4 separate regions of the Homo sapiens genome follow, and regions 1, 2 and 4 are each reported to be linked to region 3. The links are microRNA targets in miRTarBase. Many come from high-throughput screens and were not tested one by one. Region 3 holds a microRNA gene; each other region holds the end of a gene's coding sequence.
What was found. Region 3 holds the annotated microRNA hsa-miR-215-5p (AUGACCUAUGAAUUGACAGAC, at 2,723-2,743, shown strand). A microRNA usually pairs through its seed, bases 2 to 8, with sites in the 3' UTR of a target mRNA and lowers its output. Matches are read on the target gene's strand: a 7mer-m8 pairs with bases 2 to 8, a 7mer-A1 pairs with bases 2 to 7 and ends in A, and an 8mer does both.

Region 1: miRTarBase lists SLC68A1 as a target of hsa-miR-215-5p. The part of its 3' UTR that is shown has no 7-base or 8-base seed match.
Region 2: the mRNA of STX7 is a reported target of hsa-miR-215-5p. Seed matches in the 3' UTR shown: 8mer at 5,466-5,473, 7mer-A1 at 4,555-4,561 and 7mer-m8 at 4,242-4,248.
Region 4: miRTarBase lists KCNMB4 as a target of hsa-miR-215-5p. Seed matches in the 3' UTR shown: 7mer-m8 at 6,110-6,116.

What each region holds. Positions count from the first base shown.
Region 1 is chr10:102,474,493-102,482,676 of GRCh38, forward strand. SLC68A1 (solute carrier family 68 member 1) reads left to right here. Exons shown (of 10, transcript NM_024789.4): 10 at 1,230-2,553. The coding sequence ends at 1,492. ACTR1A (actin related protein 1A) reads right to left here. Exons shown (of 11, transcript NM_005736.4): 8 at 7,509-7,683; 9 at 7,345-7,406; 10 at 6,640-6,680; 11 at 4,737-6,473. The coding sequence ends at 6,371. Among named protein-coding and RNA genes, the nearest start is that of SLC68A1, 17 kb to the left of the region's middle.
Region 2 is chr6:132,454,400-132,462,583 of GRCh38, forward strand. STX7 (syntaxin 7) reads right to left here. Exons shown (of 10, transcript NM_003569.3): 10 at 1-6,451. The coding sequence ends at 6,359. Among named protein-coding and RNA genes, the nearest start is that of STX7, 55 kb to the right of the region's middle.
Region 3 is chr1:220,112,475-220,120,658 of GRCh38, reverse strand. It overlaps MIR215 (microRNA 215), which reads left to right and starts at 2,697; the gene lies at 2,697-2,806. It overlaps IARS2 (isoleucyl-tRNA synthetase 2, mitochondrial), which reads right to left. Exons shown (of 23, transcript NM_018060.4): 12 at 6,185-6,345. It overlaps MIR194-1 (microRNA 194-1), which reads left to right and starts at 2,418; the gene lies at 2,418-2,502. LOC124904515 (a long non-coding RNA gene) reads left to right here and starts at 1,546. Exons shown (of 2, transcript XR_007066883.1): 1 at 1,546-1,674; 2 at 2,776-2,917. It also overlaps LOC105373475. RefSeq lists an enhancer at 5,817-5,986.
Region 4 is chr12:70,429,455-70,437,638 of GRCh38, reverse strand. It overlaps KCNMB4 (potassium calcium-activated channel subfamily M regulatory beta subunit 4), which reads right to left. Exons shown (of 3, transcript NM_014505.6): 3 at 3,347-7,154. The coding sequence ends at 6,986. Among named protein-coding and RNA genes, the nearest start is that of PTPRB-AS1, 35 kb to the left of the region's middle.

The sequences.
Region 1 (8,184 bases), not on the chromosome of region 3:
AGAAAAGGTCTCAGTGAATCGCAGGCAGAGGGAACAGCAGGCGCAAAGGCCCAGGGTGTCAGGGGTGATTAGGAAATGTGGCTGGAAAAGCGAAGAGGACTTTGTTGATCAGGGCAGTGTTGGAAGCAAGCTGTTGGGAGGGTTTTATTTTTATTTATTTATTTATTTACTTTTTGAGATAGGGTCTCCCTGTCACCCAGGCTGGAGTGCAGTGGCACGATCTTGGCTCACTGCAGCCTCGACCTCCCAGGTTCAAGTGAGCCTGCCACCTAGCCTCCCAAGTAGTTGGGACCACAGGCGTATGCCACCATGCCTGGGTAACTTTTTGTATTTTATGTAGAGATGGGGTTTTGCCAGGTTGCCCAGGCTGGTCTCAAACTCCTGAGCTCAGGTGATCCACCCACCTTGGCCTCCCAAAGTGCTGGGATTACAGGCATGAGCCACCACGCCCGGCCAGGGAGGGTTTTAAACAGGGAAGTGACGTAGTGTGATTGACTTTTTAACAAAATTCACTCTGGGCTGGGTGAGGTGGCTCACACCTGTAATCCCAGCACTTTGGGAGGCTGAGGAGGGCAGATCACCTGAGGTCAGGAGTTTGAGACCAGCCTGGTCAACATATAGTGAAACCCCCGCCTCTACTAAAAAATACAAAAATTAGCTGGGTGTGGTGGCGCATGCCTGTAGCCCCAGCTATTTGGGAAGCTGAGGCAGGAGAATCGCTTGAAACTGGGAGGCCGAGGTTGCAGTGAGTGGAGATCGTGCTACTTCACTCCAGCCTAGGTGACAGAGCGAGACTCCCTCTTTCCAAAAAAAAAAAAGTTCACTCTGGCTGCCATATGGACAGCAGATCATAGGGAGGCCAGAATGGGGACAGCAGGGACATCTTTGGGAGACTGGCAGAGGCCGTGGAGACTTGGGCCAGGGTGGTGGCAGGTGGGATACGTTTTGGAGTTGGGGGGAGATGAAGGATTGGGTGTTGGGGAGTGATGGCGTGAAACCAACCAGGGAACTGAGGAGGACTTTGAGGTTTTGGGCCTGAGTTATTGGGTGGATGGTGGTGCCCGTCACTGAGATGGGAAGAGTAGGAGAGGAGTGGGTTTGGAGGAATCAGGAGTTGTGGTCTGGACACGTCCATGTGGTGTCTGAGATGTCACACCATAGACTTGGAGGGCACCAAGGCTTGGAGGACAGTGGGCTGACCATGGTCTTTCTGTGCTCTCTTGTCCTAGGTCATGACCTCTTCCAGCAGTCCCTCATAACCCCTGTGGGGAGTGCCCATCCCTGGCCAGAGCCCCCAGCTCCAGCCCCTGCACAGGCCCCGACGCTCCGCCAGGGCTGCTTCTACCTGCTGGTGCTGGTGCCCATCACCTGTGCTCTGCTGCAGCTCTTCACCTGGTCCCAGTTCACGCTGCATGGGAGACGCCTGCACATGGTCAAGGCCCAGCGCCAGAACCTGTCACAGGCCCAAACCCTGGATGTTAAGATGGTGTGAGAGCTGTGGCAAGGTCACCCCACTGAGGATGCTGCTGGCAGCCTGGGGAAGGAGCCAGTTTTTTTTGGTTTTTTTTTTAAGGATTTCATAGTTTTTTTTTTTTTTTTTTGGAGCTGTTGCCCAAAAAAATGGATCTGTTGCAGTGGTGCAATCTGGGCTCACTGAAACCACCACCCAGGTTCAAGCAATTATCCTGCCTCAGCCTCCCGAGTAGGTGGGATTATAGGAGCGTGCCACCATGCCCGGCTACTTTTTGTATTTTTAGTAGAGACAGGGTTTCATCATGTTGGCCAGGCTAGTCTCAAACCCCTGACCTTAGGTGATCAGCCCGCCTCGGCCTCCCAGAGTGCTGGGATTACAGGCGTGAGCCACTGTGGCCAACCTAATTTTTGTATTATTTAGTAGAGACAGGGTTTCACCACATTGGCCAGGCTGGTCTCGAACTCCTGACCTCAAGTGATCTGCCTGCCTTGGTCTCCCAAAGTGCTGGGAATACAGGCATGAGCCACCGCACTCGGCCAGGAGCTAGTTTTACCAGCACCCTGCTCCACTGCCTTCCTCTAGTGCAGCCTGGAAGACATGGCAGCGGGTAGCTCCTGGGGCTGAGCCAGAAGCATCACTGCAGTGAAAGTCTCTGCTTACCTGTCTGGCTCAGCTTGGGCAAGGGCTGGGCCATATGTGCTCAGGGACGTGCTTCTCTTGTAAGGCAGGAGGACAGAAGAGGACCAAGAAGGGAGGGGGCTGCCCTGTGGTGCACACAGGCCTGCCATGGGGCGTGGGAGCCCATCCCGCTGCCTGACTGGAGCTGGCCGCTGTGGTGGACTCAGGAACCACTTTTAATACTGCAACTGCTCCCTTTTGCCCAGTCAGGGAAAGCTGACTGTAAGTCCCACCTCCCACTCCGTCCACCCTTCTAGTGGTTTCTCTGAGAGGTTTCTCTGCTTCAGCTGTGCTTGAAGTGGCATGCCTCCTCTGCTGCAGGGCTCCCCCACCCCCACACGGCCTCTAAAGATGTTTATTTCCTTATAGACTGATTAAAGTCAGCCATTCTTTTTCCTCAAGTCTGTGCTGTGTGAGTGAGTGGTGGGTTGCTGGGGTTGAGAACCAGGATTCCTTACTGACTAGAAAAAGCCCCTGAGAGCATTTTTCTGAATAAGAGTGGTAGGTAGGCCGGGCGCAGTGGCTCATGCCTGTAATCCCAGCACTTTGGGAAGCCGAGGTGGGTGGATCACCTGAGGTCTGGAGTTTGAGACCAGCCTGAGCCAACATGGCAAAACCCCATCTCTACTAAAAATACAAAAATTAGCCAGGTGTAGTGGTGTGTGCCTGTAATCCCAGCTACTTGGGAGGCTGGGGCAGGAGAATCGCTTGAACCCAGGAGGAGGAGGTTGCATTGATCGCGCCACTGCATGCACTCCAACCTGGGCGACAGAATGAGACTCCATCTCAAAGAAAAAAAAAACCCACCTTGGTGGGTTACCAAGATGCCAGGGAGAAAAACATAGATTGGTAACTGCATAGGCACTCGGGCCCAAAATGACCATTAGGCCTCAGTGCATTTCCCATGTATCACTGCTGGACATGGTAGTCAAAGAGAGAGGAGCCTCTTTTAGGCCCGAGGTTCTCAGCCTTGGGGTCCCCTGGGGAACTTAAAAAATACTGACATCTCAGTTCCATTCCTTGGGATTCTGACTTAATGTGTCTGGGGTATGGCCTGGGCAGTAGGATTTTGAACATCTCTGTAGGTGATTTTATCATGCAGCTGGCACTGAAAACCATGACTCTCAGCCACCATTTCTCAACCTTGGCACTAGCACTGGAGATATTTGGGGCCAGATTGTTCTCTGTTGTAGACATTTAGCACCCCCCACCCCACCCCACACACACACCAGTTGCGACAAACAAATACATCTCCAGGCATTGCCAGATGTGTCCTGGGAGGCAAAATTGGTTCCAATTGGGAACCACTGCTCTAGGCCAATGGTTTTTTACAGGCTGCATGGTGATTAAAAATGTAGGCTGTAGGTTCTATGGCCTGGGTTTACATTCGGGATTAAGAAAGGCCAGCGCTGGGCACGGTGGCTCACACCTGTAATCCCAGCACTTTGGGAGGCCGAGGCAGGCAGATCACCTGAGGTCAGAAGTTCGAGACTAGCTTGGCCAACATGGTCAAACCCCATCTTTATTAAAAATATGAAAATTAGCTGGGCACAGTGGCAGGCACCTGTAATCCCAGATACTTGGGAGGCTGAGGCAGGAGAATTGCTTGAACCCAGGAGGCAGAGGTTGCAGTGAGCGGAGATTGAGATTGTGCCTCTGTACTCTAGCCTGGTGACAAAGTGAGACATGATCTCAAAAAAAAAAAAAAAAAAAAAAAAAGGCAGAACTTTGGAAAATTGCTTAATCTTTCTGTGGCTCCAAATCCTTATCTGTAAAATGGACAACAAAAGCACGTATATTTTGTAAGGTTATTGGGAAGATTAAATAGTTACCATTTGGCAAAGACCTGGCAATTTTCCTCCCAAGTGCAGGTTTTAAACGGAGAAGTGATTAATCAGGATATCTGAGTATGGGCCCTGGAAACTGCACTGTAATAAGCTCCTGGCCTTCTTCTTTTTTTTTTTTTTTTTTTTGAGACAGAGTCTTACTCTGTCGCCCAGGCTGGTGCGATCTCAGCTCACTGCAACCTCTACTGCCCGGGTTCAAGCGATTCTCCTGCGTCAGCCTCCTGAGTAGCTGGGATTACAGGCGCCTGCCACCACGCCCGGCTAATTTTTGTAGTTTTTAGTAGAGACGGGATCTCACCATCTTGGCCAGGCTGGTCTTGAACTCCTGACCTTATGATGCACTTGCCTTGGCCTCCCAAAGTGCTGGGATTACAGGTGTGGCGTGAGCCACCGTGCCCGGCCAAGCTCCTGGCCTTCTTATTCACTTGACAGTTTTGAGAATCTTTGATTTCAGGGATGTTGAGAGCTGCTCCTGTCATCTGGAGTTGAGTCTCACCCATGGGCTACAGTGTACACAGGAGTGGGACCTTCTGTTCTTGAACTTAGGCTGTGGTGTGATCACCCTTTTCTCTGCATCCACCTGACAGGCTGGGACTTGGGCTATGCTCTGGACAAGGCTGGCTGGTGCAATGATGCCCTCTAGAGGATGGATCAGGCCCAGTCACCACCTCAGATTCAGTGCCTGCTGCTCTTCCTCTTTCCACTTGGCCCTGGTGACAGACAGATAGAGGCCCAGCTGACGTGTCTATCGGAACGACTTTATTTCAGTACACTGGGCCCCACCAGGCAATGTGGTTTGTGCGAGGCTGTGCGAGGGACAGGCTTGGGCTAAGAGAAGGGAGGTGAGTTGGTTAAGCGCACTGCAGTCCGCGGGGCGCTACGTTGCTTTCACACATACCTGCTGCTGTGGCCCACACCTGGCAGGGGCCTTTGGTCATAGGACGGCGTGGGGGAGAATACTGTGTGAAGTCTGGGATTGGGGTGGGTCTTGGTGTCACAGGTGAGGGTGCCGGTGAAGACAGGCTGGCCCCAGCTTTGCACCATCTAGGCTGAAGGCCTTTGGACCACTCCTAGGAGTCAGGCCTGGCTCCATTAGCTCCTGGCACTCTGGTCTGGCCCACTCCCTCCTTAACCAAGCAGGTCCAAGGTCAAGAATGGCACAAGATCAGCCCAGAGGGGGCCTTCCCACCTCTACAACCTAGTCCCCTGGTCAGCTACAGTGGCAAAAGGCAACTTGGTAAATTGCAGCTTTCTCCAGTCTTAAGGGCACTGGCTCTCCAACACCCCTCCCTTGCTTAGGGGCCTCTGCCAAAGAAAAATTTTACCTCCTGTTTCAGAAAATCTAACCAGCAACCAGCCTGTTGATTCCAGGGCAGTGAGCAAGAGGAAAAGGGAGAAAGAGCCTGGTGGGAGTGTCTTTGAGTGTAGCTTCCAATCTCAAATGGTCCTGGAACCTGTGGACACTGTCAGCTCACCATCAGCTGGGAGAGGTGGGGCCCTGGAGGCTAAGCTTAGGTGCTGTAAACATTAGTGTAGCAAGGCAGGAGGCAGCAAGCTCCCTCTCTCCAGCCCCTAACTGAACAAACACTTCAATAAATAAAACGGTTTGAAGATGGCATTGCAACAAGAACAGATGGAAAGCGAGGTCCTGGAACCAGCAGGTGCCTTAAACTCTCCCAAGGCCCCCGAAAGGGGACTGGGCTGGGAACATTAACTCTGCAGCCATTCAGAGTGAGGACTGCTCCTGCCCTCCTCCAGTGGCCGGTGTGGTCCTGTTCCCTGGTGAACATGAGGGCCTCCTGCTCTCTCCTGACTCCAGTCTCTGTAATAGCTCTTGGGGTGCTTTTCCAGCCTCCCAAACCAAAATGGCAACAAAACCAGACAGAACTCAACCCCAGTCCCAGTCCTCAGTGTGCAGTCAGGAGGCATCGATAGTGGAGGCAGCAGCTGCCTGGGGCCTCAGGGCACCCTGGGGGTGGGGGTGAGGGTGGGGCCAGCCCAGCCTAGGATGGTCAGCAGCAAGGTCTCCCGGGGGATGGCTTACCTCCCTCTGTCTCCCTGTGGTAGTAAACGGAGTCCCCCACAGCCAGCCAGAGGCCACCTGAGGAGGGAGCACAGCCTCTGCCAGCGCTCTTCCCTGTCAGGAGCCAGTTAGTGGTCAACCCCAGGCCTCAGGCCATCACCACTGCAGGTAGTTCATCGTCCTTTCTGGGCCCAGGGTCCCAGGGCCACACGGCACTCGCATGTGCACACACACTCATATCCACACACGCACTCACACACAGGCAGTTCCTCGCAAACACTCCGACTCAAGAAAGCGAGTTTTAAAGTGGAGTTAACTTCAGAGAGAGGTGAAGATGATGTCCCGACATTAGAAGGTTTTTCTGTGGATGGATCGGGCACCGTCTTCCTCATATTCCTTTTTGGAGACCCACATCTTCTTAAAGGTGTCCAGGGAGGCAAGGATGGAGCCCCTGGAGGGAGGAAACCCAGAGGAACTGTGTGAGAGAGAAGTGGCTGTGTGTGGAGCCTACCAGTCCCCTGGGGCCAAACCAAATCAGGCTTTTCTTTAGAGGGTGCTGAGGGGTTATCAGTGCCATCACTTCCTGTTCTGTTCTTACTCCTGGAAGAGCTACTCACCCAATCCACGTGGAATACAGTCTCTCCTGAGGTGCAGATATCTGCAAAGGTGGGGGAAAGAGGAATCTGAGACTTCCAGCCCTCCCGCTCCCTTTCCCTACAATGCTCCTCTTTCTGCCCATGGCAGGGGATACATTTTACACAAGCCTGAAGCTCTGGCCTCTCTGGAGGGCACTGTGGCCAGCCTGCCACTCATCTGGGGAAGCAGGTTTCCAGTCCCCACAGGTCCCAGGGAAGCTGGGACTATTGGGGGGGGCAGGGAGAAGCAGACTCCATGGCAAGAACTGTACTCCTTCCTTTAGGATCCCCGCTCTCCTCAGACAGCCAACCTCCTTCACCTATCACTAAGGTGTCAGACTGTGTGACAGGGGAGCCACCTGGGCAGGGGGCACAGCAACAGTAAGTCAGTCTCCTCTTAAGATTATAGTTTCCCTGAAAGATCACGCAGGGGGCCCTCTACCTAGTACCCTGCCTCATCTGGGTATTAGAACTGCCTGCCTTTGGTGTGAAGAGGGAGAATGAGAACTCAGCCTCCCTGTGGCTGACCTAGACCTCAGGGTCAGTGTACAGGCTGGGAACCTGGCGCTGCTTGTAGAGCCATGGCTGCTTGAAGAGCTTGGGCAAAGCTAGAGGGAAGCTACGCCAGGTGGCACTCTGTCCATGGAAGCCTAGTTCCACCCAGGCCAGGCCCCACCATGCTCCTACCCTGATCTTCACATCTTTTGGAGCTAGTTTCTTCACTTCACTCAGGAGCCTGTCACCAAAACCTGAATGGGCAAAGAGGAGAACTTCAAGTCAATTCTCAGGGTGCCTGGAGCCAGCAGGAGCTGAACACTTCCAGGGGAAGGGCTCCAAGAGAAGAGACAAACCTTTGAACAGGGTAGAGCCTCCTGAGAGGACAATGTTAGAGAAAAGCGTGCGCCGCAGGTCCATGTCTGACTTCTGAATGGCGAACACCAGGACCTCGTGGATGCCTTCACTCTCCTCTCCAATCAAATCTGGCCTGAAGAGCAACTCAGGGGCCCGGAATCGGGAAGGACCAATCTGCAGGTAGGAGGGCCAGCTGAAGAGGTCGGAGCTGGGACCAAGGTCCCTTTGGGAGTGGGAATGGAAGACGCCCCTCTGCACGTCACTTAGTAACTGGGTGGCTATGAAGGCCAGGCTCAAGACAGACTCTACATGTCAAGGGCTTAAAGGAACAAAGATAGGCCTCCTGGAAACTAGTGAGGGGAGGCTCCTATATTTCCTTCTCGCTCTGGCATTTTCCAGCCAAGAGGTCTTTGGCATCAGTACATGGATTTATTTGCTCATGGAAACGTCTTCCTAGCAATGGGGGTTCAAGGGAGTGGTAACTCACCCTACACTGCACCCAGGTGTGGTGAAGGATGGCACTAACCATCCCACTTCCTAATCTCATACTGATGTGGGACAATCCCTTAGGAGCTTCCTCCCCTCTAGCGGGAGGGAGCAAAGTTCTGGCTGCCTCCTCTGCAGGAGACAGGGCCACTCATGCTCAGGAGCTCTGCTGCTCCAGAGAGAGGGTGT
Region 2 (8,184 bases), not on the chromosome of region 3:
TGGGTATGATATTGTATGACAGTTTTGAAAGATGTTCACTGTGTGGGAAACAAAGTGAAAGGTACACGAAAGAGGTCTCTGTATTATTTCTTACAACAGCATGTGAATCTAGTTTCTCAAAAGTTTAGTTAAAAATACTAGCATTAAACATATTTTATACTTTATAAAGAATGGGCTCTATTTCAAATGTCCATACCATTCCAAAGGAAAGTATTGGTCACATACTCCATTCTAGATTTAAAGAAAATTTAAAACAACATAGAAAATTTCTAAATGACTAAGAAAAATGTTTGACCACAGATCAGGAAAAGACATAAGGACAATAGGGTAGCCCTAATTTTGAACAAAAAATGTTTGTTTATTGCCTCCAAGATAGAACATGAATTTCTTGAACAAGAAATGTTTATTGCCTCCAAGATAGAACTAACGTGAATGATATATAACTAAGGTTATCTTACTATTAGCAAATTTTGGTATATACCCACTGCAAAATAGTACTTAAATGTTAAAACTATGATAACCTTTATGAGGCTGAACATTAAATCTGGCCCTGGGAAGAGGTTGGATGTGGCCTGAGGCACATTGAAAATGCCTCGAAATGAACTCAAAACGACCACAGTACCTAGGTTTGAGATAAGAATGAAATAAAATATATTCCCCATTAAAATCTTGCTTATTTTTAGAATCATTACTGACAGAAGGATCAGCTTTGATCTGAGAGCTTTTCACCGTCAAGTTTTTAGCTATACAAGTTATTAAAAAAGCAAAAGCTTGCATCTTACTTGGATTAAAAACCTAATTTCTAGAAAACAGGTTCTCTTCTTTCTGGTCTGAGTTTAACATTTCAGATCTCCCATTAAACAACTGATCAAAAAACTTTCAGAGGGCATTAAAAAGTGAAACTAGGTATCAGAAAAATCTTAGTCGAGGCTAAATAACTGCATTTATAAGCTTTCTACCAATGCTATTAGGTGTTGGAGTTAGTAACTACTGCCTAACGATACTTACAGTAAACACTTAAAAATTTGTACTTTGGGTTGGCCAAAGTGGGAATTAATGCCCTTTCAAGTTTATTTAAAGATTCAATTCAGTTCTAGAAAACTCCCTCGTCAACAAGTAGAGGTGTTGTGCGTGTAACGACTGGACAGGAAATCTGGTTTTGCCTTCCACCACTTACATTTTAAGCATAAATGCCATCACTACACAAAACCTACGGGAATCCCACTCTAAGCAATTAAGTGACCAACCTCTTAAAAACTTGCCAGAAGCTACAGTGTCTACAAAAACCTATTTAGTGTGTTATTTAGCTCTATTTCTGCATTTAAAATTAGGATTATTTGGAGAAAAATATTACATAATATTCATGTTAACCAAATGATTACAAAAACAAAGAATTAAAATTGGTGTATTGATATGGTATTTGAATAATGAGAAAATGGGCCAATAGGAAGATTTTCTTCTTTATTCCTATTTGATTTAAAAGAAAAAGATTTGCCAAGGGATGGGTAGGGTTAAATTAAAAACATTTTAAGAAACATTTCTTTATATGGAGCATACTTACTGTTTTTGCTTTGAGTGCATTCTGATGAAATATAGATTCCAAATTCCCCTTGGATCTCACCCTTCTGTCTAGTGCTTTGCCCTCTATTTGGGGCAGTAATTCTATACATATCCTGTAAATGTCTGTCCTGATGATCAGGATGCCCAAGCTCTGAATCCAACTGCTGCCACCAAGAGAACGGCTCCTTTTTGGAGCCATTACACACAGATCATCACTCAAATCAGTAGTTTCTCTTTAGAAAACTAGCAATTTTCTGGTAGTCTGTCAATTAAGAAAAGAAAATGAAATTCAGTTACTTAGTAAGGAAAACTGGATAAACAGGAGGCTGGTCCAAACGGAGATTTATATTTAGACATTCCCTTTCTTCCTTGCCTCATTCCTTTCACACAGCTATTTCCCTTCTTTTAACACACCAAGTTCTTTTTATATGCCAAATAACAAAACATAAACTCCCTGAGGGCAGGAAGCTTATTCTTTTGGTTCACTCTTAGAACACTATGCCCAGGCATGTAGTAGCCTGGCAAAAAGCCGGCCCCAAATAAGTGCCAAATTAAGTATTTATTAAGCAACTACTACGGGAGGGAAGGAAGAAGGGAAGGAAGGAAGGAAACTGTGTTAAGTCCTGGGGCCCCAGAAGCTTAGTATATGTATTTTTTATTTTGGTTGGAAAAAAATGACTTGCTTACCATCTAGAGCCAATGCTTCTAAATTTTTCCATCAAAGAATCTTTAATGAAAGTGAGGAAAATTCTGAGGCTTCCACTTCACGTGGTTTGAACTGTACATCTCAGTGTTTGTTTCACAATTATGCTAGACTGTCAACTCACTTCTCTTTCTAGAATGTCCTCTGCAGTGCAGGTAGACCAGAAACCACACTTCCCACAAACTCCTTCTGTCTCTGGTTCTAAGTTGAGAGTTGACCATGAGAAAAGGAGAGACCATCTTTCCTCAGAGGCCACTGCAGACAGAAGTGTAGGCGGGCAGAGGACATGAGTTTCACAGCAGTTTCAAAATCTCTTGCAAGGCACTGGCTTTGGAGCTATTAACAGCTGACAGCTGGGGACAGCTCCCTGAGACACACTGTCAGTGCTGCACGCCAACAGCACAGCCTTCTGGATGTTCTCAAGAGTCACAGCAGTGCCTGGGCCAGCTCCTGAGATCCACCCACTTTGGGGCCGCAGACACCTTCCTCACCCACCCTTTTGATGTCTAATTCCCTATGTTAAAACACTTTACACTTATAATCCATCAAGTGGTTTCTGTTTTTCTAACTGAATTGTTAAAATATGCAAAATTCACATTAAAGAAGTTTCCTACCTATCTTGTGACCTCAGTGAATGAGATGCTGCTTTATCCAATCTACTGACTTTGGAAAATCCAGCTGAAATGAGGAAAGATAATCGTGCATGTCTGGCAACCAGGTAATTTCTTTCCTATCTTTCATGTCACAGTATTTTGAGGACACAAATTCCTAAATACTCAGAAAAAAATGGTTTTATCTTAATTGATTTATAAATTATGTTAGGGTAGTTGTTAAACAGAATTTTGTCAAAGAAGCAGTACACTGTAACACTTTCAGGCTCCCATTGGTTTAAAATTTGATAAGTGTATTTCTTTGCTGACAAGTCAAACTGTTCAAATGTTATGGAGGACTAAAAAGGCCTGGGATTCACAGGCTCATTTTTTGTTTTAACTGAATCATGAAAATACACAACTTTTTTTTTTCCAGGAAAGACAGATGTTATTTACCACCAATGAATTTTTATCATATTTAAATGAACTTGAAAATGTCATTCAACTCAAATCCCTCAATCAACTTACTTCAGCCCATTCTGAAACTTCATATTGCAGCAAACCAGCCATGTGAAAGAAATAAATTCAATTTTGACTTTCAAAAAAAATAAATGCTGCATAAGTTACCCTTGTGGACCTTAGCTATTAAGGTGGACAATGACTTTATTTTCTTTACGTAAGTTTTATATTTTATTATGACATTCATTTTTTCTACATGAAGACACAAATAAAAATTATACCAACTACATAAACTATTTTGTACTTTCCTTGCTAAACCACAGATGTATTTCATGGAAAGAGGGGCCTTTAAAGGCACTTATTTATCATTGTAGGTGTGTCTAAACAATTGATATTCAAAAACACAACTTTTTGTGTACAAAATTTTACAATTTTTAACAAAAGCAGTGAAGACACTAAATAACCCAGTGGCGACCTCTTCAAAGTGCAGTGTCCTTGGTCACCAATGCAGATGCTACTGGGGCAGCCAGCGGGCTCAGAGGGTCCAACTCCAGACACTGCATCCATGGCTGTCCTAGACTGAGTTGCACTTGTAAAAGAGATGGTCCCACACCTACTAAAAAAACAAGCTACTCTAGTATCAATATGACATCACTCTTTTACCATCAATCATATTGCAAAACCATAGTATTTAACGACCAATAAACAGCCAAATACCTAATGCCACATTGTCGTTCAATTTACCTGGCTGGTTAATATCAGTCTGTGTTTGAGTATTTCTTTTGAGCACACAAAAACAAATGTATAGTCACTTGATGAGGAAATTCTTCACTTTGACTCAAATGGATTCACCATGCTGTCAGTTATGAAAACAACTCTAATTTTAATCTCCACAGGGCAACCTTCACTTTTCACAGCAGTTCTAAAACTGACCTACAGAAAAGTTCAAGATTTTTTAAAAAATTTGGCTACCATACTATGTTTCTTATTTAATTTTCTCTAATCAATACTACTCTTACGTTCCAAATATTTCATGGGAAATTTTTCCCTCAAACTTAATATGTTTCTTAAACAAATTGAAGCCACTAAAGTTCCTGTTTAAACCACTGATAACTGCCCCAGTTAAAATAATAATAATTTAAAATGATTACACTTCAAATAAAGGTACTAAAATCACGCCCCCCAAATTTGTAAGCGCTTTTGTTGTTATTGGGTACTCACTGTGAATAGAAGTAAATGTACTTGACCTGTATGAGAATAAACATTTTATCAAGTACAGCAAAAAAAACGGAACTGATTGTGAAAGCCATGGGGATGGGACTTTAAAACAGCGGTAAGACGCTGGTTTATCACCAGAAACCTCATGTGCCTCTGTGCACTTGAAGTAAAGACCACATTTGAGCAGGCCTGGTGGGCTGGCACAGGCCTCAGAACAGGTGCTGTTTGTGTGAATTCTCCTCCCTGCATTGTCCATTCTGTTCTAGGGCAGTCTGATTCTGGCAACAGGAGTCTCTAAGTTCCAATCACTCACTCACAAAAGAGTTTTCTGTAATCCCTTTTGTGGAAAAAAATGGAGTTTTTCTGATATGCAAAGCAACTTCTACCAGTCTGACAAAGTAGGTAAAATCGATGACACCCTAAAATAAAAACCTGGAGTGAACTGGTGCTCCAGAAAGATGCTGAATGGCCACAGTGCATGTGGTGATGTCTCCATGCTGAGGTTTCAGGCAGCACAGCACTAAGTATCAGGTGACCTGTGGTCCCACCAGAGCATAGTCCTCATGAAATAGGCCTAACCAGATACCTTTTAACTCATCTTTATTTTGGTTGCAAAGATGTGGTTTACTTAGCTACTTACTATTTGTTCCCATTTGAAGTCTCAGAGCTTGCCAAGTTAAACACCGCCTTCAGTACCGAGCTGCTATACAAGAACATTATAAAATACAAAGTATAAACTAAGATAATCCTCTTTACAGAATTCAGATTAGTGCATTAAAACAACATTGATTTAAAAAGGGAAGTGAGATAACTGGCAAACCTCCAATTGCTTTTTTAATGAAGGATGACACAAAATGGCACGCAAGGTAAACACTAAATTTTGTCAGGTGCTCAAAAACAGTTAATTGTGGGAAAGTTACTTTCCAAAAGTAATTTTGACCTAAAAATATTAACCATTATTCTATAAGACATAAGGGAAGGTAAATAATGGCCCACAAAACCAGATGATATGGTTAAGATAACTAGTTTAGTGGAATAACAAACTGGGGTCTTAAGAATCCAAACGCAATAGGTATTGGTATTGGTTGTTCATACTCTTCTTCCAAATTATGTTAAACATTTTTAGTAACTACACTTTCCCCCGTAAACATCAGACTTAAATAGACCATATGTAAAAACAACCTATCCTTAGTAATTTTACTAGGCAATCTACAGCAAAAGCTTAATATATACACAGAAAGAGTATCAAATAAACTAGAAAAGTATTCACCGACTTCAGGGTAAAAAAGATCTTAAAAGAAAACCAACAAAAAAATGAAAGACACTTTGTGCTGTTGTGAACCAGAAAAATACAACCCATGTATAGACCTTAATTATTTTACATTATTGAGAATATTTTCCCTGCTGAAGCAAATCAAAATTAAATTTGAGAATTTTAATTGAAGTAACACACATCTAGGTGTGTCACAGTGACAGGGAGATGCAAACAGAATACACACACCTTTAAATTTACGAATTCCCAAAACTAAGTCAAGCAGGGTAAATAAATTATAAATGAAAGGCATATGCAATGTGGGCAAAAACTTAACAACTATTAAATTGAAGACCAAGGGAGTTATGTCAGCAGTGACATTTAGAAAATCTTTCAGTATTAGAAAATATCAGATTTAATCCAAAGGAACCACCCCAACCCCCCCAATAAAAATAACAAAGTATGGGAACCATCCTTTATACAATAGCTTTAAAATAATAATTAAAAAAACATGATTACAGGAATCTTCCTACATAATTTAGACAATGTAGTGCGACAGTGTGCTCCTTTATAACTTCAGTGGTTCAATCCCCATATGATGAGACTGATAATCGCAACTCCAATGACAAGGATAAGAATGATGATGCACAGGGTTTTTCTGGATTTGCGCTGCAGACGCAAAAAACAAAACAAAACAAAAAAACATGTTTACAGATTTAGTGGAGTACCTCTACAGCAACTAAAAATAATTTGGTTCATTTCTAGAGTAAAATCAGTAGTAGTATATTGCCCTCAAATTTTTGACTGTGTTTTTTTGTTCCTCAAAAATCTCTTTAATACATATGGCACTATTCTTTCAAAAAAATTCTTGAACTAATGCTACAATTAAGGGAGCAATTTTTCAACTTTCATTGGTAATTTTTCTAAGGGTGTGGCTGACCTTAAGAAAGAAGACACCACTAAATAAGTTACTGACTTAAACAAGAGACTGAGGTTACCTATGAATAAAAATAAAGAACAGCTTACGAGCTTAAACATTCTTTACCTTTTATTAAAGTTTTTCTTAAAAATGAGTTCTCTGAAGATATCAGTAAGTACAAATTGGCAACTTTTCTTCACATATATTTCTTTTCTTTTTTTTTTGAGATGGAGTCTTGCTCTGTCACCCAGGCTGGAGTGCAGTGGCACAATCTTGGCTCACTGCAATCTCTACCTACCAGGTTCAAGAGATTCTCCTGCCTCAGCCTCCCAAGTAGCTGGGATTACAGGCGCGTGCCACCACACCCAGCTAATTTTTTTTTTGTATTTTTAGTAGAGACGGAGTTTCACCATGTTGGCCAGGATGGTCCCATTCTCCTCACCTCATGATCTGCCCACTTCGGCCTCCCACAGTGCTGGGATTACAGGCGTGAGCCACCACGCCCAGCCCCTCACACATATTTCTTGTTTCCAAAATACAATGATTTTGGAATGAGTTTCCAAAATCATTCTCATTCTTTAATATTAATGGGAAACTACATTCAAAATCTCAACAAACAAAACCACAGAGCAAACAAAATCATAATGCTGTCATTGAAAACCGAATGGTTAAGAATTTTGTTCCGTTCTTCATTCCTGGTTCAGTTGTAGATTTCTTTAATGGCGTTTGTACCTCACATCAACATGCAGGAATCCTTTTTCTTACAAAGTAGAAAAATTTGTAAATTTACTTTGTGTCAAGTAGAAGTACCAAAATATTTATAAAAAGATACATTTCTGAGTCTGAAATTACACTGAAAACCATAAATAGTTTGAATATTCCACATATTCATCTAATTTTTCCAGTGAATACTCCTTACGTATCAAACACAATTTCTCTAAAATTTCAATACCATGCATAAATATTTTTCCCAGACTCCAGTTGGTTACCACAAACACACATGTAATGTACCTGTGAGTCATCACGGGTATCCCACAATGGTGTGTTTGTTGCCTGGGGTACTCCCCCTAGCGTGGGGTAATGAGACCCTGGGGCAATGTGGTGATAAGTGAACTTGAATTTCTCACCTTCCTTATTCTTAGGGTTCACCCAAACATATCAAGGCTTCCAAACAGAACTATTGGAAAGCTGCCTCTTTTCTCAGCACTTGTGCTGCATGGCCATCTCGTCCCGCTTCGGGAGCTGGGGGAATTAAGCCTAGGGGCAGCTTCCAGTCCTGGGGTGTAGCTTGGGACATGTGCTTTTTCCTGTAGGCTTGGCCTTCCACAAGGAAGAGGAAGAGTAAAACTTGGCAGAATATCCACATTTCCCCCAAATCCAAAAGCAAAATAAAATACCATGTGAACCTAGTCACTGATGGATCCTGTTAAGTTTCAGCAGTTATATGCTAACAGCTCCAGAAGACTTCTGGCATTTGCAGGGG
Region 3 (8,184 bases):
CACACCTGTAATCCTAGCACTTTGGAAGGCTGAGATAGGTGGATCATTTGAGCTAAGGACTTCAAGACCAGCCTGGGCAACATGGCAAAACCCGGTCTCTACAAAAATACAAAAATTACCCAGGTATGGTGGTGCGTGACTATAGTCTCAGCTACTTGGGGGGTGCTGAGGCAGGAGGATCACTTGAACCCAGGAGGCAGAAGATGCAGTGAGCCGAGATTGCACCACTGCACTCCAGCCTGGCAACAGAGTGAGACTCCATCTCAAAAAAAAAAAAGGCCGGGCGCGGTGGTTCACGCCTATAATCCCAGCACTCTGGGAGGCCGAGGCGGGCGGATCACCTGAGGTGGGGAGTTCGAGACCAGCCTGACCTACATGAAGAAACCCCATCTCTACTAAATATACAAAAATCAGCCAGGCATAGTGGCGCAAGCCTGTAATCCCAGCTACTTGGGAGGCTGAAGAAGGAGAATCGCTTGAAGCTGGGAGGCAGAGGTTGCAGTTAGCCAAGATCCCACCATTGCACTCCAGCCTGGGGAACAAGAGCAAGACTCCAACTCAAAAAAAAAAAAAAAAGTGTGACAGAGAGCTTTGAAAACAAAAATTGCAATAAAAATAAACAGACATATAACCCACAAACTTGAGCTAGGTATAATGATGATAAAAACAAAGATAAACTTAATGTTCAAACAAAATCTAAAAAGATAATTTGAAAAAAGTATATAAAGTTAACTGTGAACAAGTGCTCAAAAGACACTCATTATAGAGATGTGACAAACATCTAACAAAATCCAAACACTGGATAAGTTATGTTCATTTGATTTTCATACACAAGGAACTAGGCAACCATTAAGAGCTAAGCTGACATTTTTAACAGGTACATATTCATTCTTCTATAACTAATTAAATTACATCTTCTTTTGTATATCATTATGTTCCTTTATAAACAACTGTATTGGACATCTTATATACATATCCTCACACAAGAGGTATTAGTCCTATTTCCTTTGGGTAAATACTTAGAAGTGGAATTTTTTTATAATGAAACCAAGATAATACTTAAAAGATTTCTTAAATAATTTTCTGTTTCCTAAAAAAATTTTTAAACAATTTTCTAACTATTTCCTTGTGATATTTAATATTCTTCAGAAAAAAATGCAGGAAAATTCCTAATTTGTCTGAAATTTAAGAATTCTACCTTCATTTCTTTAACATTGTATACTTAACACAAACTCATAGTTAACCTATAACCCAAAGATCAGTATAAACGACTGCTGATAAAAGTGGGTGAAACCACTTACCAGTATGTAATCTATATGCTTCCATCTTAATGCTTTACTTCATAAAGCAATAAATCCATCATAAAACCTTGTACTTTACTCAAAGGCCTTATCTCAACACATGCATTACGTGTCCCTTCTTAGGTTTCAATCAGTGAAAATCCACTAGGTAGCATGAGCAACTATGACATCAGCCAATCATTCTGAACTTCGATATCAACCGGAATGAGGCTTATTTAGCGTGTTATGGACATTAAGCAGCATTAAGATTACTAAAGCAACAAAGAAACGACTGCTGTCATCCCACTGTCTTCTGTGTTTTGCCTTTATAAGCAAAAATATTGAAGATTATTAAGACAACTTTTCTTCTGTAACTTACTGGAAGAAGAATGAGGTAAGAGGCTAAATGTTTCACATTTGTTTACTAAATTTAATTCTAGAACAATGTGAAATTTGGAAGGGGAAATTCTATTTTTAGTTTAATCCTAGATTTATGTTTTAAAGCTGACAGAAAACCATTTTGAAGAAATTTTTCTTTATTTAATGAACATAAATTTTTTGAACAAAAGGTTTATTATTGTTAACTGAGAAAAAATTTGAGGTAGCTAAAGTTAACACTCAAATTATATTGGAAATTCCTTGGCTATTTTTACTAAATTTCTCATAATTTCCAGAAGTTAGGGGCTAAGTTTCACTATGTTAACTATAGCATTAATAGCATGAAAGTGATTATAACTGTTTGAAATGATGAAAGAAATTTAACCAACTTCTTTTCCTTCCCAGGTAGCCAGTGTTTCTACATTTTATCTTTTTTATGCTAAAAATTATTTCTTCTGTTTTTATTGACTAGTAACAGATTTCAACCCAAATTCTAATGGCATTATCTCACAGATTCAAAAAATGACCAATGACAGTAAAGTCAGAAATGGAATTATTTCTTGATAAAATACAAATATGATCTAAAATGCAAATGACACTATTAATTCAAATCAAAATAAAACATCAGCGTTTCAAATCTACCAGTCCCTAAACTTATTTAGAACATGAATAAATCGAGACTTTCTTCTGTGAAACAAGTATACTTAGAGATATCGTACAGCTCCCATGATGAGCAAAAGGAATCTCCTTATATGTTTAATGGTGTTATCAAGTGTAACAGCAACTCCATGTGGACTGTGTACCAATTTCCAGTGGAGATGCTGTTACTTTTGATGGTTACCAACTTGCTACAATATAAAGGTATAATAAAGAAAGACAGAAAATTGTGGTCACTTGGACTCTCATTTGATTCCAGCAGAAAAAAAGATTTTCAGCCTGTTTTATAAAATTAACAAATGATTAAGAATTAATATCAATTTTCTTAAATTCAAGTTTTGTAACACCAAAAAGATCCAATAATGGAAGAGGATTAAAGTCATCATTCAGAAATGGTATACAGGAAAATGACCTATGAATTGACAGACAATATAGCTGAGTTTGTCTGTCATTTCTTTAGGCCAATATTCTGTATGACTGTGCTACTTCAATATCAGAAATCGACTAACACCACGCAACCAACGCAATGGCAGGTACACAGAAGATAATCTGTAACACTACCATGTAAATGTATTGAGTAAATAAAACATAAATATACCTAATGAAAACTTGTGTTTTTCTGACAAAGCTCATATTTATTTAACCTAACTTACTGACCAGTCAACCTATGTACCATTTAATTATCAGGATGTATCAATTAAACCAGTTTGCTATATTTACTAATACATACATATGATCCACCTCAGAGTCCAGAGGGCTATTCCACCAAGGAATCCCCACCCACCTCAATCACTTCAGTGAAATTCCCTAGACATCTTGCTCTCTAAATAGTGAAAAGAAGAGTAGCCGGGCACAGTGGCTCACGCCTGTAATCCCAGCACTTTGGGAGGCTGAGGCGGGCGGATCACTTGAGGTCGGGAGTTTGAGACCAGCCTGACCAACATGGAGAAACCCCGTCTCTACTAAAAAATATATATATATAAAATTAGCCGGGCGTGGTGGCACATGCCTCTAATCCCAACTACTCAGGAGGCTGAGGCAGGAGAATCACTTGAACCTGGGAGGCGGAGATTGCAGTGAGCTGAGATCGTGCCACTACACTCCAGCCTAGGAAACAAGAGTGAAACTCCATCTCAAAAAAAAAAAAAAAAAAAAAAAAGAAGAGGAGACAATGACATGGCTTATAAAACTTTCCAAAAAAAAAAAAAACTTTCCAGTGTGAAATTTTAAACAAATGTTTGTGGAAACTCGTCTCAGGTATAATCACTTTAATTCTTTTTCTTTTAAACTAAGTCTGAGGCTGGGCATGGTAGCTCATGCCTGTAATCTCAGCACTCTGGGAGGCAGAGGTGGATGGATCCTTTGTGGCCAGGAGTTCGAGACCAGCCTCGTCAACGTGGCAAGAGCCCATCTCTACTAAAAATACAAGAATTAGCCAAGTCAGTGGCGCGTGCCTGTAGTCCCAGCTACTCAGGAGGCTGAGGAGGGAGAATCACTTGAACCTGGGAGGTGGAGGTTGTAGTGAGCCAAGATCACATCACTGCACTCCAGCCTGGGTGACAGAGTGAGACTGTATCAAAAATAAAATAAAATAATCTGAACTGGACAGAATTTACATTAATTCTTAATGTAAGTATTAAGATATTAGTAGTTTACATCTGACCAAGCTCTGTAAGAACACCACAGCAACAATATTTAGATTATTCCTAAAGTCTTACCTCAGATCCAACTTATAATAATATTGAAATAGCTTTCCAATGACTTTCCAGTCTCTAGCCTCTACTTTCTTTTCCTAAAACATACTCTTACTCCTCAAGTCTACTTAAAAGTTTAAACTTCTTAATAGCATAATTTAGAAAAAATTCCATTCACCAAATTAAAAAAAATTGCTCAAAGAAAATGAAAATCTGGAATGTGTTCCTAAAAGGAAGAATTAACATTCCCCTCTCCACATCTGTGAAAAACAGCAACAACACTCAAAGCCTCCCTAATATTACTAGAAGATAAACTAGCTAGACTATTATCTCATTAAAAACAGGGGCCATGTCAGTCTTGTTCACTGTAGCAACTAGCAGTTCCTAGCACTGACACGTACTAAGTGCTTGACAATGTGTTCTGTTTTGTTTCGTTCTGAAGAGACAGTGTCTTGCTCTGTCATCCAGGCTGGAGTGCATTGGCATGATCATAGCTCACTATAACCTCAAACTCCTGGACTTGAGCGATCCTCTCGCCTTAGCCTCCCAAGTCGCTGGGACTACAGGCCCACACTACCACACCAGCTAATTTTTAAATTTTTCTGTAGAGATGGGGTCTCACTGTAATCTTGAACAGCTGGCTTCAAGCAATCCTGCCGCCTTGGCCTCCCAAAGTGCTGGGATTACAGGCATGAGCCACTGTGCCCACATAACAATGTTTCTTAAGTGAATACATGAATAGCTCATCATCTATGGAATACTGTGCTTTACACCAAGTAGTTTGCATTTATTATTTAGTATTCATAACAGTCTACCTGCAACCATTGCTTTTCCTATTTTATAGAGGAGCCAGAGGCTAAGTAAATTCCTCAGTCTCACACACAGTGAATGGCAAAGCCTGGGTTCAAATTCAGTTGCCATTCTCCAAAGCTCACAGATTTCCAAGCAACTTCTCTTTCGAAAAGCACAAAAGGGAGCTGTTCGGGATAAAAGAATTATTCTAAGACACAATTATGATAGTGGCTGTAAAACTTAACAAATTTACTATAAATCACTTATAATAAATGAATTTTTCTTTTTTAATTTTTTTGAGATAGAGTCTCACTCTGTCACCCAGGCTGGAGTCCAGTGGCACGATCTTGGCTCACTGCAACCTCTGCCTCCCAGGTTCAAGCAGTTCTCTGCCTGAGCCTTCGGAGTAGCTGAGATTACAGGCCCGCGCCACCATGCCTGGCTAATTTTTGTATTTTCGGTAGAGATGGAGTTTCACCATCTTGGCCAGGCTGGTCTTGAACTCCTGACCTCATGATACACCAGCCTCGGCCTCCCAAAGGGCTGGGATTACAGGCGTGAGCCACCGCACCTGGCCATGAATTTTATAGTATGTAAAGTATGCTTTAATAAAGCTTAAGAATGAGGCTGATCTATGTGTAGTGATTTGGAATAAATCATAACACATAAAGTGAAAAAAATCTAGGCACAGAGCAGAAGATAGAGATACTCTCTTTTGTATAAACATATGTATGTGCTGACAGAAGAATTCATTTTTTCTGGAAAGATTCAGAAACAGCTGTAAACAATGACTGCCTCAAAAAAAGGTTCTGGATACCTGGAGTAGGAAAAAGCCTACTTTTCAGTGTACAAGCTTTTCTACTATGAATTGTTCACTATGTCCATCTATTACCTTTCCAACTCAAAAAAAAAAAAAGGGAAAAACTGGGAATATAATCATCAGTGTAATCATGTGCATTTAACTACAATTTCTTAAATTTTAAGTATCTACACAATTACATAATCCCATTTCCACTGAAAAGGAAAGCAGACTCAGAATGTGAGAGTGATTCTCTTCATTCCTTTAGAAAAAATACATTTCAGGCTCCCCTGCTAAACACTGTCCATCTTTGGATCCATGATACCTTAATACAGCCCAATAAATTCTCATAGAAAAAAAGTCAGAGACTTTACTTCTAAGTATCAATATTTAAGAAAATCTAGTTAATATTTTAACTGTATGATAGAATTGTTTTGAACTTATATTTTAGTCCCCCAAAAGACTATTTTAGCATATTTTATTTAACATATATAAACGGTTCTTAATCATCCACATTATTTTTCAATTTTTGAAGAAAAAATATTTCACTTTAAAACACTAAAAAATTTTAGAAAGCATTCTACCTGTTGATCAAGTATTCATCCTTGGTCTTATGATGAAACACAGGAATTGGAACACCCCAAACTCTTTGCCTTGATATACACCAATATGGCCGCCTGTCCATCATTTCAACCATGCCATTCAGTGCTGATCCAGGAATAAATTTCACCTTTTTTAACAATTCCTGCAATTAATTCATAAATCAAGTCTTGTGAGAGAAAGCAGAACAAGTATTCTAGAACAGTCAATTTTCCAAATGCATTTGTTTCTTTTGGATGTTTGTAGCCATTCACATACCTCCCTTACCCTCCCCTCAAAAAAACAACTAAAGAACTAAAAGATTTCAGAGCAAATAAGGCAAAGTAAAAATGGAGCCGCGAAGAACTTAATAAATAATATCGGGAGCAGTGATAATATCAGGAGCATTGTTGCATTTTTTAACAATGTTACAAAAGATTTCATACCAATTTCTAATTTACACCAACCCTAGATCAAAACTGGTAATAAAAGCTTTCATAGAACTATTATACTTCACTAAACTATAGTTAAAATCAATTCAAACTTGATTTCCACCATTTTTTAAAATGCTTAAAAAATAAATTACTATCGTAGACTGCCAAAAAAAGATTGCGATATACCTAATTTTACATAATATAGTTTACAACACAGAAAACACTTTCTCAAAATAAGCCCAAGTATGTGGTTCAAACCTGTAATCCCAGCATTTTGGTAGGCTGAGGTGGGAGGATCACTTGAGCCCAAGAGTTCAAGGTTGCAGTGAGCTATGAGCATGGCAGTGCACTCCAACCTGGGCGACAGAGCAAGAGCCTGTCTCTAAAATAAATCTCTCTCTCTCTCTATATATATATATCTATCGACAAATGGCTAACAGTTACTTCCTCTCAAGAAAGCTCCCTTCCTCCATTCCCAAAATAAGGTTGAAAACTGCTACCATTTGATTTAATTTGTCAACTAGCAAAAGATTAACTGTATAGCAAAAATGTTTACTAATAGTCTCCAAAAAGGTCAAAATGTTAACTTCATTTTAAAAAATCTTTCTATCCATTAATAAAAGCATTTTTACATTTTCAAAGAAGGTTTAAATGGTTTCCTCACTCACCGTAACTACCAGAAGTCCCCTCCCACAAAGCTCTCTGTAGCACCACCTATTGGCAGAATGGCAAAATCTCTACAAATCAATTTGATTAATACCATACTTGGTTTAAAAGTCTAAGAAATGTGAATATTGAATAGATATTTGATTTTGCTAAGGAATAACTATTACTTTTTAAAGGTGGTGATAATGGCATGGGAATTATGCTTTAAAGAGTTTGGCCGAGCATGGTGGCTCACGTCTGTAATCCCAGCACTTTGGGAGGCTGAGGAGGGCGGATCACCCGAGCTCAGGAGTTCAAGACCAGCCTGGCCAACATGGAGAAACTCCGTCTCTACCAAAAATACAAAAAAATTAGCCGGGCATGGTGGTGCATGCCTATAATTCCAGCTAATCAGAAGGCTTAGGCAGGGAATTGCTTGAACCCAGGAGGTGGAGGCTGCTGTGAGCCAAGATCACATCACTGCACTCCAGCCTGGGCAACAAGAGTGAAACTCCATCTCAAGAAAATAAATAAATAAATACAGAGTTTATCTTTGGCTGACACCTGTAATTACAGCACTCTGAGAGGCCGAAGCAGGCAGACTGCTTGAGCTCAGGAGTTCGACACCAACCGGGGCAACTTGACAAAACCCTATCTCTAGAAAAAATACAAAAATTAGCCAGATGTGGTGGCACAGGCCTGTAGTCCCAGTTACTCAGGAGGCTGACGTGGGAGGATAGGTTGAGTCCAGGAGGTGGAGGTTGCAGTGAGCTGAGATCACACCACTGCACTCCAGCCTGGGTGACAGAGCAAGACCCTGTTTCAAAAAAAAAAAAAAAAAAAAAGAGCTTATCTTTCAAATATATGTGCTAAAATATCGCCGGGACAATATATAATATGGAAGAAATAGTGCCTGGAATTTGCTT
Region 4 (8,184 bases), not on the chromosome of region 3:
CTGAGTCAGAGACCTGATAATGAGACACAGAATACATTTTATATATTTCAAACTTCTTGGAGATAGAAATGTTGCATCTTTTTAACAAATGCATTAATAAAAAATTACCCCAGTTGTTTTCAATGTTGTACAGGGACCAGGCAGAAAGGATCATGTTCTTTGCATTTCCTCTCTGAGAAGAAAGTATCCCAGTAATTGCTTTGCATCAAAGAAAAGACACATTTTTTTTTTAAATAATGCTGGAAATTGCTAAGTATGAGGAAGTGGAGACTTTCAAGATAGCCATATTTTGAAAGTTATTTAATACTGAATAAAATGGAGAATTTGAAGAATCTTGACTTTATTAAATAGACAATGAATTCAGAGGTGATTTCTTCTGAGTTGGAGTTCTGGAAATAAAAACAACTTGCCAATGATAGAACTTCTGAAAAGGAAAATCCCAATATTGTTCTAGTCTTAGACTGGTGGGGACTAAGTTAGAAGCATCTGATAAATAAAAGCACAAATTTTTAGGAAAAATTAGTTTTGAGTCCATTTTTCCTTTTTGCTGCACTAATGCTATACTACCATCATCATCACTGTTATTATCACCATCATCACCACCACCACCACCACCATCATCATCATCATCATCATCAGTATTTGTGGATCAGGCACTGTGCCAAGTACACATTTTGCATGGTCTCATTTAGTCCTCTCCAATGATATATCAATATCAGCCTCATTTTACAGTTGAGATAACAAAGCTGTAATAGAAATTAGGTAGCTTGCCCAAGATCACACAGATGCCAAAAGGGAGAGCCAGGATTCAAACTCAGACTGTTTGGTTCCAAAGATCTTATTCTATGCCTCTTTTCTCTAGATTATCCCTCATAAGGAACCAAATTCATTCTAATAAGCTAGTAAGCTATTATATCCCTGTCCCCTTTTTTAATACCTTGTGTAGCCTTCTGAATATTTTATTTCCTACAATTTTAAAAACTTCCATATGATGGGACACTCAATACATTTTTTTTTTACAACTGGAATACATTCAGAGAGATGGAAATTCTAATTTTTTTTTTAAAAAAGGCTACAGATTCTATTGTATATATTCTTTGAATATTTCAAACTCTCTTGGCTATCTCTAAGTCCCACTTCTGTACTCCATACTGTAGGATAGACCTCTCCCCTTACCTTCCTGAAATATCTCCCTATTTTGCAAAGCAACAAAGCTTCCCTTACGTTTTTTTCTTTTACTGAATTTTAAGAAAATTCTGATTAATTTAAATCAGTAAAATAATTAAATTAAACTAAATTAGGTAAACTTCAATTTTAGATAAATAAAAATGTAAAGAATCATCTAAATTTCAGGTCTCTTCTCATACTCAATACAAAATGTAAGATGTATAGAAGAGGAATGTAGGAAGGAACTGATAATCCTCCCCCCCGTTCATTCTCCCTTTCCTCATTTTAATAATAAAATCTCTGTCCCAGGTTTTAGAAGGCATGGCTGCTCAGCAAGAGGTTCCTCTGCAGTTAATTTCTTACCAAAAGAATATACAAACTTGATGTGTGCAACTTCTATCTCATTTTATTCAAATGTATGTGCTTGCCCTTTACTTTTCTCTTCTCCATCCCACAGGTTGACCACTATGAAGAGGACACTCTAGGGAATGGCAGAATAAATGGTAGAATAAGTATAATAATAATATAAAATAATAATAGAGTAAAAATAATGGTAGAATAAATATAAGTCCCTGGACAATTTCATGGGCTACCTCCTGATGGCTACAAGAAAGAAAATAAATTATCTTATTGGAACTACAGTATTTGGGGGTTTCTCTGTTACAGTGGCTTAGCCGACACCCTAATAGTTTTAAATTCAGTACCAGAATATTATGGACTAAGTTGTAGACCCCCAAAATTTATAGGTTGAAGGCCAAAGCCCCAATGTAACTATATTGGAAGATAGGGCCTTTCAGGAGATAATTAAGGTTAAATGAAATCATAGAGAGGGGCCCTAATCTTATAAGACTGGTGTCCTTATAAGAGAACACTGGAACACACAGGGAGACATTAGGGGCACAAGTGCCTAGTGTAAGGACACAGCAAGAAGGGAGCCATCTGCAAGCCAAGGAGAGAGGCCTCAGGAGAAACCAAACTTGCCAACACTTTGACCTTGAACTTTTGGCCCTCAGAACTGTTAAAAAACAAATTTTGGTTGTTTAAGCCACCCAGTCTTTGCTATTTGTTATGCAGCTCTAGCTGACTGATACGTAGGAATGGAAAAGTGCCATCATAACAAAAATCTAAAATATGTGGCTCTGGTATTGTGTTGCCAGGCAACCGGCAGTGTGGAAACAGATATTGCAGGATGAAAAACTAGAGACCCTTGTTATGTTTTGACCAATCACTAGGTAAAACTGACACCAGCAACAATTTGAAAGGCAGACTAGCTATGGGGAAAGCAGTTAGAACCAGAGTGGTTAATGTATATTGGTGGCTCCTTGCTGATGTTTTTAGTGAGGTACTATCAAAAGTAGTTGCTGTAAGATCAAAAAATAAAAAGTTTGCAAGTAGATAACACCATGCCCTGAAGTACAATTGCTTCTGCATTCAAGGGAGCAGGAGATGTGACTATTATTCAGTTTTGTTCAATAGTCACCACTGTGGCTGGGTGCAGAGGCTCACGCCTGTAATCTCAGCACTTTGGGACGCCGAGATGGGGGGATCACCAAAGGTCAGGAGTTCACGATCAACCTGGCCAACATAGTGAAACCCTGTCTTTACTAAAAAATACAAAAATTAGCCAGCAGAAGCCTGTAATCTAAGTTATTCAGGAGGCTGAGGCAAGAAAATTGCTTGAACCGGGAGGCAGGGGTTGCAGTGAGCCAAGATTACGCCACTGCATTCCAGCCTGAGTGACAGAGCAAGACTCCGTCTCAAAAAAAAAAAAAAAAAAAAGTCTCCATTGTGTTACTGGTCAGACAATGGGAGTCATTTCGGCAGAAAAGATCAGATGAAGAATGTTGCATCACCACTTAAACTCATTGTTGGAGAAGACTTCAAGATGGCTGCCATTAATTTGAGGGACAGAGGTATGGGCCAGGCACAGTGACTAATAAATAACACATTGCTGGCTTAAAGAACTATAACTAGAACAGCTCTTTGGCTGTGGCTACTTTCACATGAACTGACTGAAAGCAAATGAACCAGAAACCTCTAGTATTTTTGATAAAATGATGTCACCAATGCTATGATGACCCTTAAGATGTCAGATGAACTTCCTCCTCCCAAAATTCATAGAAAATTACCACGAATTCAGTTCGGATGCTGAGACTGATAATGCCACACACACAAGAAATGGGTATAAAAAGGTTTATTACTCACATACTGAGACTTTCCAGGGAGATAGGGCAGGCTCCCAGGAGGGTCGAGAAACGGCTTAATTGGTTTGGCTTTTATCCGTCTTAGAGTGTGAGGCTGGGGTGAAGCTTCCTGCATGCATGCCAGGGCTTGCGTGATTTGAACTTCCTGCTGGGGCCAAAGGAGGAGGCACCCATGCTTCCATCAGCTTGCCCAGATGTGCAGCATAAGGGAGAAGGGAAAGGTGAGTCTTGAAAGATGTCAGCAGTCAAACATTAAAAACGGCATTGACGTCTTTATTACAGTCAAATGAACTAAAACCCCGGCCTATAAAAGCGTATATTTTTCAGTCTCTAAGGCAATCTAGGTCTAAAAGTCTGCACCAGCAAGCAGGGGCTGCAAAAGCTGCGATGTCCCTCAAAAGTTTCAGACGGGGCCACAGAAGCTGACGAGCAAGACTTTCCTAGAGGTCAAACTAGTGGCCACAGAAGACAATGGACAAGGGAGTTTCTCCTAGATAGCAGATTCATGATTTCACCAAGGAACACTTTCTGCTGGGCAAGGGATCTCCATCATGCCTGCTCAGCAGATTATCACGGCATGGGCCATTGGCTGCTATCATTTTTGTCTTTAACTCTAGTATTCATTCCCCTCTTTTTAGCTTTAGTAATAGAACCCTTTCCCTGGAGTTTTAGTAGGGCACATGTCCATCTAGTTAGAGACACGTCCCAGGCTTTCTTGAAGCTAGGTATAGCTATATAGTAAGTATTCATGAATGGACGGTGGGCAGAAGTGATGGCTGTAATTTCCTAAAAAGGAAATGGCTTGCTCCACCTTCTTCTTTTTTCACAGGCTAGGAAGTCTTGAGCCAGCTTTGACCATGGAAAGAACAATACCCTTGGGTATTAAGAGAACTAACAAGGTAGATGACTCCTATATCCCTTGAATACCTTGTGAAATGAAGCCACTTCTGGATTGCTATGTGAGAAAAAAATAAATTATCTTACATGAGCCATCATATTTTGGGGTCTCTTTGTTACAGCAGTTTAGATCATTTTCTGATTTATACAAAAAGAGAATGAAAACATTAAGAAGGTAAGCTTATTTACCTTTTATGACCTTAAAATGTCCTCTGCTTGTTCTTTTGGGTTTTACCTTTAACAAGTATAAATAAGGTGCTTCAAATTTAATTGGCTGTAAGCAAGTAAGACCTTAAGACTACATGTGACCTTATGAATTCAGTGTGCTTCTCCCCTTTTCCAAAAATCAACCTACAGAATACAGTTGCATATACTTTTTCGGGATAAATGGAAGCGTTTAGTGTAAATGCATGAATATCAAACTGATAAATGAAAACTAAGATTGATATATATCAACTTCCCCTTTTTTCAACACAAATGTATATCCATGCACTATTCTAATCTACTACTCTGTAATCAATTAATCATAGACAACTGAATAAAGATAAAATGGATAAAGCAGACTTCGTCTCCCATAATGTGATGCAGAGATGATTATTTCTCGGACTCCCAGTTTCGTGTTACTCTATGCTTCAGAATAGTTCACTGTGTTGCTAAGACAACAAGGATGCTGCAACCGGAAACTGGGATTGAAGTCAAGGCACTGGAGCTGCCTCAAAAGATGTCATAAATAGTGTGTTCAAGGCCTTTTTCACAGTGAAACTGTAACTTTTGAATTAGAAAAAAAATTATTGGAGCCAAGCACGGTGGTGCACACCAGTAACCCCAGATACTTGGGAGGCTGAGGGAGGGGGATCGCTTGAGCCCAGGAGCTTGAGGCTGCAGTGTGCTATGATCATACCTGTGAATAGCTACTGCACTCCATCCTGGGCAACATAGCAAGATACCCATCTGTTAAAAAACAAAACACAAAAATAAACAGAAGAAGATTATACTCAATTCAACACCTTTCCACAGACTATGATTTTCAGTTATTCACATTCTAAGATTAAGAAAACATTGGCCTGTAATCCCAGCACTTTGGGAGGTGAAGTGGGCAGATCACAAGGTCAGGAGATTGAGACCATCCTGGCTAACACGGTGAAACCCCGTCTCTACTAAAAATACAAAAAAATTAGCCAGGCGTGGTGGTGCGTGCCTGTAGTCCCAGCTACTCGGGAGGCTGAGGCAGAGGAATGACTTGAACCCAGGAGGTGGAGACTGTAGTGAGCCGAGATCGTGCCACTGCACTCCAGCCTGGCAACAGAGTGAGACACCATCTCAAAAAAAAAAAAAAAAAAGAAAAAAGAAAACATTGGTATGTGGACTAAAGGTCAGGAAACCATCACTCCATATATACATATTACAGCTCCATGGAAATAACTGAGGGGAACTTGTCTTTAAATTCCAGTTTACCTTTATTCTAATAGAGGCATGTCTGAAGAGTATCAGAAGAAAACAAATGAAATTAGGTTGTCAGTTTTTCCTCCACTAACGATGTACATCTCACCTAAACAAAGGTTTGATTCTATGTAGTAAATAGGTTTGATGTTCACTGAGACCTGCGATTTGATACTTGGAATTTGAGTTTATAAAAAGATACAAAGAAATATGGTCTTCTCAATCAACTTTTGATAAAGGCACAGAAAGCTCATCAGTAGCAATGATGTGAGCTGGGTTGCATCTCCAGGTTTGTCTAAGCAAACTGCACAATGGCAGCAATCCTCCTGGTTTTAATACTCATAACATCAAGGCAAGGACAAAGAAAAAAAAATGCTTGAACTGATTTTGTTGTTTTTTTCTGACCTACAAAAAAAAAAAAAAATGAAAACAGCGTTTCACTAAGCTGAAGAGTGTCCTTCACATCATGTATATTGTATTGCACACAAACTTTTTTAACTCCGTCAAAAACAACAAGAACAGATGAATAAGGAAGCCCAGTGCTTTTTGAGATAGAAGCCTTCTTCAGAATCACCTCCCTCTCTTAAGAAGTAATCTGGTGAAAAATAATGGTTAGGCAAAGGCAGGTGTTGGAGGATATGTTTTCCCAATCTTTTAGAATCTCTTGCTTAAGAGACACAGAGGTGACTGGAGACTGAGTTACCAGTATACTATTCATTTTCCAAGCAGACGTCAAAAGATACTCTTTAATAGTGGAAACTGAGGGTTACACAGTAAGGTTCAGACTTCAGCAGGAATCCTTGTTGTCAAGTAAAAGTTTAACCTAGCAGAAGCAAATGAGACCCAGATGTCCTCACCTTTTTTTTTTTTTTAAACCCTGGTGTTCTAAGCATAAAAAAGGAAATAGAAAATAACACAGACCACTCTATTTTAATATTTTTAAGTAGCATAAATCATAATGGTTTGTATACTACACTGTACAAATAATATACTGTTACTTTTGAAAGAAAATGAACTTCTTATAGGGTTTTCTGAAATAGTTACTCCATACAGCTAAGATCTTGACCCTTTAGCCATTGCTACAGCAGATGGAATACAAGCTTTGAGGTTCCAAGTCTTCCAGTTGTGCCTGTTTCTGTTGCCACTGAGGGATGAGCCTCTCAGAGCCCTGTCGTGGCCCTGTCCATCTCCTGCGCCAGGAAACACAGGTTCCGCAGGTGGACGCGTGCCGATGAGTACAGCTTCTGTACTTTGCTTTCTACAAGCCTCCTTCCCCTTTAAGAGAACTTGCGCTTCTTCATGGCTTCCGCCTTGACCGCCAAGCTCTTGGCACAGATGGTCAGGACCACAATGAGAACGCCCACCACAAATGTCACCAGGGGCCAGAGGAAGCAATGCAGGAGGACAATCTCATCATGAGTGCGATGCAGAAGCACATCATCTGGTCTGCAAGACAATGGAGAATAAGAAAGAAAGGGCAGTCAAATGCCTTGGCACTGAAAAACTCTTTACAACCTAAAGCCAAACTTGCTTTCCATAACCATTATTGAAAGTAAAGGCTGCACTCTGACTATAAACACTGTATTTTTGTGCTTCAAACCCATTACAGAAAGTTTTGAGCTCTTGAGTCAAGTAATTGGTGCAAATTTATGTATTAATTATAATTTACATGTTACAAAGTGTCAAAAATGTATCTCTTATGCTATGATTTTTCTTCATTCTAAGTTACTTAATGTATTCCACTTTCTCATTCATCCTCTAATGTCCATTGGTCAAGGGGCTTGAATCAGTCAAAAAATTACTGATGGGTGAGCATTCTCCAACAAATCTGAACTAGACCTCAGCTCATAGGTGTGGCCCAAATGATCTTAATTCAGATAAAAAAAAAAAAAGGTCAGTTAAAGCCACTGCTTGAATTTAGTCAGAAAGACAGCTGGTGTAATTCTCAGGGCAACTCAGCTTCACTATGTAAGCTACAGGTTTTTATTAATAAGCAGACAATGGCTGAATGAGTGCCTTTTTCCATGCTTCTGGGTGAAATTAGCCGTCATTTTAAAACACTGACCACTTTCTTAATAAATCTTGCAAAGTCCTAGCAATAGATTTCTGTCTTGTCAATGTGAGGCTCTATTTTTCAATTCCTGCATTGGTCCCATTCACAGAAAGTGAAGATGAGATGTGCTCCACAAGCCATGATCTCTAATCTTCGGCCATTAGAAAGAGATCCTGGAAATCTAACTTTTTTCTTTTTTTTTTTTTTTTTTGAGATGGAGTCTCACTCTGTCACCTAGGCTGGAGCGCAGTGGTGCCATCTTGGCTCACTGCAAGCTCCGCCTCCTGGGTTCATGCCATTCTCCTGCCTCAGCCTCCTGAGTAGCTGGGACTACAGGCGCCCGCCACCACGTCCAGCTAATTTTTTTGTATTTTTAGTAGAGACGGGGTTTCACCATGTTAGCCCGGATGGTCTCGATCTCCT